2 linked regions of the Homo sapiens genome follow. The protein of the gene in region 2 purifies or fractionates together with the protein of the main gene of each other region. This does not show direct contact. Each region holds a gene or a part of one and is shown on either strand. Other genes may lie near its edges.

What was found. The genes of interacting proteins can lie anywhere in the genome.
Region 1: the proteins of ZNF550 (region 2) and MEIOC purify together in Homo sapiens (affinity purification with mass spectrometry; 2 studies listed by BioGRID and IntAct, with this or other methods). This does not show direct contact.

Annotation. Positions count from the first base shown.
Region 1 is NC_000017.11:44,666,468-44,669,967, reverse strand, and holds part of MEIOC (meiosis-specific coiled-coil domain-containing protein MEIOC), read right to left. Parts: coding exon 1,735-3,500; intron 588-1,734; coding exon of another isoform or gene 586-587; coding exon 451-585; intron 1-450. UniProt on the Homo sapiens protein: Is required for meiosis completion in both male and female germ cells. Confers stability to numerous meiotic mRNAs in gonads allowing proper initiation and progression into meiosis prophase I.
Region 2 is NC_000019.10:57,542,864-57,546,363, reverse strand, and holds part of ZNF550 (zinc finger protein 550), read left to right. Parts: 3' UTR 1-3,120; coding exon of another isoform or gene 3,121-3,164; 3' UTR 3,165-3,500. UniProt on the Homo sapiens protein: May be involved in transcriptional regulation.

The sequences.
Region 1 (3,500 bases), on a different chromosome or scaffold from region 2:
CTAGGACCAAACATGAAAAAAATATATTTCAGAGAGTTAGATGTAAATGTGATTTAAAAACCCTTCAAAGCTCTAAAACTTGATGAGAGTTTTATTTATTTATTTATTGAGATAGAGTCTCGCTCTGTCACTCAGGCTGGAGTGCAGTGGCGTGATCTTCACTCACTGCAACCTCTGCCTCCTGGGTTTAAATGATTCTCCTGCCTCAGCCTCCCAAGTAGCTGGGACTACAGGCGCATGCCACCACCCCCAGCTAATTTTTGTATTTTTAGTAGAGACGGGGTTTCACCATAATGGCCAGGCTGGTCTCGAACTCCTGACTTCAGGTGATCTGCCCGCCTCGGCCTCCCAAAGTGGTGGGATTACAGGAGTGAGCCACCACGCCTGGCCTGAAACTTAAAAAAAATTTAACAAAAAATCCATCCACTGTTATCTATTTTTACAGCTTACTCTGGCTAGTTCTCGAAGTTCATCCACAATTAAGCGATCAACTCTAGATGGGTTGGAAGTCAGCCTTGGAACTGGAGTGTTGTTAGTACTGGATACTTTTTTTCCAGGATAATTCTTGGCAAGGGCTAATTCAGTCTGTAAAAAATTACATACTTTTTAGATGTAGAATTTTCTAAATATGATTCGACCATGAATAATAGTTTTCGTAAGCCTAATAAATAGAGTATTACCACTTTAAATGAAAATTCTGTTTTGGTATCAAAAGACAACAAATGTAAACCACAATACCACAGTATTTTTCTATCTTTTTTTTTTCAGATGGAGTCTCACTCTATTGCCCAGGCTGGAGTGCAGTGGTGCAGTCTCGGCTCACTGTAACCTCCGTTTCCCGGGTTCAAGCGATTCTCCTGCCTCAGCCTCCCGCGTAGCTGGGATTACAGGTGCCTGCCACCACGCCTGGCTAATTTTTTGTATTTTTAGTAGAGACTGGGTTTCACCATGTTGGCCAGGCTGGTCTCCAACTCCTGACCTTGTGATCTGCCCACCTTGGCCTCCCAAAGTGCTGGGATTACAGGCGTGAGCCACCGCGCCCAGCTATCGTCTTAATACAAATAAAATACCTGAGTATACCAACAGGTTAACACTACAAAATTCAAAGAAATAAACTTGTAACAACTAAGGGGGTAAAAAATCTACTTCAGGGCAAGTCAACTTAGAATAACAATAACTTTAAAATGTCAAGCATTTTTCATCTTCATTTATTTAAGCTTCCCATTGGCCAACCCCATCCATTTTTAGTTTTTAAGTAACCCACTTAATTCCTTACAGTAATGAACTTACAGCAAATCCTGGACATTATAGAATTCAGCTCAGAAATAAGGCAAGTTAGCCGGGTGCAGTGGCTCACATCTGTAATGCCAACACTTGGGACATCAAGGTGGGAGGATGGCTTGAGGCCAGGGGTTTGAGACCACCGTGGGGAACATAGTGAAACCTAATGTCTACAAAAAATTAAAATTAGCCAGGCATGGTGGCATGTGCCTGTAGTACTAGCTACTCAGGAGGAGGAAGGATTGCTTGAGCCCAGGAGTTTGGTTACAGTAAACTATGATTCTGCCACTGTACTCCAGCCTGGGCAACAGAGCGAGACTCTGTCTCTTTAAAACAACAACAAATAAAGCAAAAAGAAATAAGGCAAGTACTCTTACACTACACTAAGGTAAACAGAATGAAGACAGGCAAAAGGAACATACTGTTATTCCTAAGTGGTTAACTTTGTGTTACCTTTTTTCTCTCTTTTTCTAATGCTCTCCATTGTTCACAGCACTCTTCTAGACGAATATGAAGTTCACTGGCTGGTCCACTACGGGTTTTAATTGGTCTTTGAAATCCAAAAGTTGGCATGAGACCAGAAAAAGAATTATCACCATACATCATATTAAAATAAGGGTACAAATGGCTTAAGTCATCATAAGAAAGTAAGTCATAGGAATCCAACAGTGGAACAACTGAATGGCCAAATGGGTGGGTGGATCTTAGGGGAAACCCATTTGAACCAAGTTGTTGAAAACACTGATTATGCCTTAAATCTCCCATCATATAATTATTAGAAAAGCATGACACTTGTGTGCGATTCACACGGCTATTGTCTCCACCTCTCGTTCTGTGGCTATTAGAATGACCCTGTGACTCCAGTAGATCTTGGTATGTATTTTGTGATAAGCCATCTAAATGCTTTGGACCTTCCTCAGGATCATAATGTCCACTCTGGGGCTTGGCTTGAAAATTATGTTTGTTTACATTTTCAATTATCCCATACTTCTGAGCTGAATAGTTATCACAAAATCCATTTGGCTGCTTTATTTTTTTATCCGTAACCAATTTGAAGAGATTTTCTTCTCCAGGCTTTGTTAGTCCTTCTATGTGATTGACAGATTGGATTCTTTCTGCACCACTGTAACTAAAATCAAAACTAGAAAATGCTGAAGGGTTTTCTTGGCAATATTTCTGAAATAAATTGCTATTTGGGGTTAAGTTTGTGGATGATAGTTGGGGGAAATCTGAAGAATGGTTAGAACCTTTTGAAGCTGCACTTAAATGACTATTTAATTTCATCAAGTTACCTTGATTTCGATAAGGAATAGGAGTGTTATTTTTTGTTTGAACATTCATCCAAGTTGGTCTGTTTAAATTGATACCTCCTGAAGATGTTGCTGAGTTTGATAATAAATTCACTGATTTAAAATACTCAGAATGTGGGGGATCAGGTTTAGCAAACTGTTGCTTTTCTGTGACGTTAGCAAAATCATTAGCGGGACAAGCTGTGTGAGGTTTTAGTCCATATTCTGATGTTAAGCCAAAATCAGCAGTGAATACTGCTTCCTTTGCAAACTGTTTCTCTGTCAGATGTGGCGTAGTTTTTGGAAATGTGAAATTCTGCTGATCAGGGATTGTCTCCTCCATTTTTTTCTGATTCGCTGGCTTAACCTGAAATAACTTTGTGTAGGTGTCTGCTTCTACAGTTGGTGTTTCAGGTGTGCCATTGGCTAATTTTTTGCTATCTTGGACACTAAAATTTGAACATTTATTAAGCTTAGCCTTATTAGGATGAACATACTCTGGGTATCTACAATAATCTACATTTTCATTGTATCTATTAAATTGAGAAAGAAACATCTCTGCCCTTTTTTGCTGTAGTGGTGCTTCAAGACCTTTAGTACATATTCTGTCTCTTCCATAATGGTAGATATCAACTCCTGATTCTTTCATGATATCAGACAGACCAGTTTGGGGTGTAAAACAGTTTTTGATAAGTGGATATTCTTGGAATGTTGTCTTAGCTGTATCATTTGTCTGAATATTGTGACAGTTAGAATGATCACTTCGTGAGGGGTACATCCATTGTTCTTCAAGATCTAAACCAGTAAATCCATGATGAAGTTCATCTATTTTTTGTTGTGGTGTGAGATTACTGTTACGCAGGTATTGCTTTTCCATTGCTGACACAGATTCATCACTATAAAAAGCTTGCTGAGAGATGACTGTATCTA
Region 2 (3,500 bases):
CTTTTTTTTTTTTTTAACATACATTCACTGCCATCCTTTGTCAGAGTTAGACAGTGAGGGCAGCTCTTCAGGCATTTCTTGGAAGTTGCCTTTGATCCAGACATCTCTGGGAGGATATCCATGAGGAGAGTAATTCTTTGTGAGAAATATGAAGGCTTGTGTCATGAGATTCTTGAATTTAGTAGAAATTAGAATACTGAGAACATCTTCATGTGACACTTCTTTTTTATATCTAGGGTGAGAAGAACCCATGTACAGATGGCCACATTAAAATGTGCACCACATTAAAATGTGCAATACCTAAGACTGTTTAAGGCTTTGATTTTTATTAATAAACTCATTATTTTTTAAGAGACAGGGACTTGCTCTGTCACCCAGGCTAGAGTGCAGTGGCATGATCATAGTTCCCTGTAACCTCGAACTCCTGGGCTCAAATGGTCCTCTTGCCTCAAGTTTCTGAGTAGCTTGGGATACAGGCATACACCACTACGCCTGGCTAATGTTTGTAATTTTAGTAGAGACAAGGTTTTACCATGTTGGCTGGGCTGGTCTGGAACTCCTGGCTTCAAGTGGTCCACCTGCCTTGGCCTCCCAAAGTTCTGGGATTACAGGTGTGAGTCACTGCACCCAGCCTTAAATTTTTTTGTATAGATGAGGTCTTGCTGTGTTCCCCAGATTTGTCTCAAACTGCTAGACTCAAGTCATCATCCTGCTTAGCCTCCTAAAGTGTTGGGATTACAGGTGTGAGCCACCACACCTAGCCTAATATGGTTTCAAATGCTCAGCACTCTCACATTTTCCTGATTCCATTCTGTCTGTTTGTTGTCTTTATTTTCTCTGGCAACATAGTGATCACTTTGTACTTGCTTGGCCTTCTCAGATGAGTCCTAATTCTTTCTGGTGTTTATCAGATTCTTTAATCCTGTGTAGAGGGGTATTTTTAGGTCCCCCTCAGCATTTTTCTAGGGATTGAATTATAGCTAAAACAGGCAAAATAAAACACACAACTAAGATGAATCCATGGTAAACCCAGTAAACCCAAGAAAACAACATGGAGAGGAATCTCATTGTCTGATCTTATAAACATTTGCGTGAAGTTTTGCTACAAAATAAAGTGCCTAGCATTTTAACAGGTGAATCAGGATATACGTGGGCAGGTTTACGTGAGTTTCATAGTTAACCACCATGACCTTAGTCCCTTGGTGCTAGCACTGAATATGGTAATTAGTTTTGTTGTGTTTTGAGATGGAGTCTCACTCCGCTGCCTAGGCTGGAGTGCAGGAGTGCGATCTTGGCTCATTGCAACCTCTGCCTCCCGGGTTCAAGCGATTCTCCTGCCTCAGCCTCCCAAGAAGCTGGGATTACAGGCATGTACTACCATGCCCAGCTAATTTTTGTATTTTTAGTAGAGACAGGGTTTTGCCATGTTGCCCAGGCTGGTCTCGAACTCCTGACCTCAGGTGATCCACCCACCTCAGCCTGCCAAAAAGCTGGGATTACAGGTGTGAGCCACTGTACTTAGCCTGAATCTGGTAATTTGAAATTCCTTTTGTGAGATTTTCTTTTAGTTTTCAAGCTACATGAGATAATGTTAGGTTAAAACGTGTGAAAAATAGAAAATTATCATTTTCTCACTTTGAGCTTTCCTCACAACCTTTTAAAGCACTGCATATATATTCATGTTTTCATAGTGGGCATGTACCTTTTACTGTGGTCCTTTTGCACATATTATAAATAGAATTCTTGGTGAGTTAAGAGTTCTCTGTTTTTGTTTTTTCAGGACAGAGTGCACAGTTTCCTCTCCTGTGGGAAGGAGAGTTGACTCTTGAGGACCCCCACCCTCCTGCATCCTCTCTCTGGAAGGCTGCATGTATTGTAGCTGTGGCTGTACTTGTACCTAAGGCCCTGGGTTCAAGAGAGTTGGAGAAACCCCTCTAGAAACATATTGGCTGTCATCAAAGGGTTCTTTCCAGGCCTGAGGACCTAGGCCCCAGTTTGTCCCAAAGCAGGAGTGTTTTCCATGGGATAAAGGACACCCTAGGTTTTTCTTAGCTTCCAGCTCTTTCCATACAGTCTTCACTGAAGTGTTTGGTACAAGGATCTACTATGAACTTGCTGCTGTGATAGGCAAGAATCTCATGAGACACCTGTCATTTAGCTCCATGGCCACTCACTGTTGTGGTCATACTTAGAAGAGTGGGATGCAGTGGATGGCTGGGCTATGGGTCCTGCCCTTGAGCAGGGAAGGAACTTACTGTCTAATATAGGAAAAACACATGAGAACAGGTGCAATATATTGACTTAAACTTGTTTAGCACCCGTTTTTAAGTCAGTAGAAGTTTTGAACTTACAGTAAAAGTTGTGAACTTCTGTATGTTTTCCACAGTTTATGATTGAGGTAAAACATGTTTTTTGTTTTGTTTTTGAGACAGAGTTTCACTCTTGTTGCCCAGGCTGGAGTGCAGTGGCGCCATCTCAGCTCACTGCAACTTCTGCCTCCCGAGTTCAAGGGATTCTCCTGCCTCAGCCTCCCGAGTAGCTGGGATTACAGGCGCCCACCACCATGCCCGGCTAGTTTTTTTGTATTTTTAGTAGAGACGGGGTTTCACCATGTTGGCCAGGCTGGTCTTGAACTCTTGACCTCATGTAGTCCACCCGCCTCTGCCTCCCAAAGTGCTGCGATTACAGGCGTGAGCCACCGTGCCCGGCAGAGGTAAAACGTTTTCATGTTCATGTTTTTGTAACTTTGTTACATTTAATGAACAAATTAGATAAAAAGCACTATGCTCTTATGCTGCTTAATCTGTGAGAAATGATTGTGGGGGTGGGACTAGTTATGACCATTCACAGTTGGTGCACTTCAATCAGTAAATGTCACAGAGGAAATGTGGACGGTAAATTAACTCGGCAAGTCGGTCATGCAAAGACGAATTAGAAATCTTAATATTTGTAAGCAGACAAAAAATGTGTCTGGAAGGATCCTCACCCAGTTAAATGGTATTTGCTCCTTGGGTGTAGAGGGAGGGAAGGGATGGGGTAGAGGGGAATGTCAGAGTTCACTTTAACTTCATGCACATGTGGAAATGTTTGAAATGTTCACAGTAAATTTTATAATTTCAGAAAAACTGCTTAAGGTTGAAAAGAGAAATTTAAGAAATTGCTGACGGAATAAAAACATAATAGAACTACAACACCGAAGGAAATGAAAGAAGCAAGAAGGAAAGCACCAGAAGTGATTTGGAAGAGAAATCCTAAAATGAATGTGAACAACAGAGTGATCAGAAGAGTGTAGGGAATTAATAGTTTCTTTAAACAAGCCATCTCACAATGGAAGCCTGTGTGTCTTGAAATTGCTGTGGTTATTATTCACTCTGCCCTTTGAAGAACTGCAGAAATTCATAGGGCAATGTTAAGTGTTTGTGTCTCCAAAAAAGATGTTGGAGTCGTTACCCTCAGAACCTCAGGTAATCATGTTAGTTAATCCATTAGGTTAGTTCCTA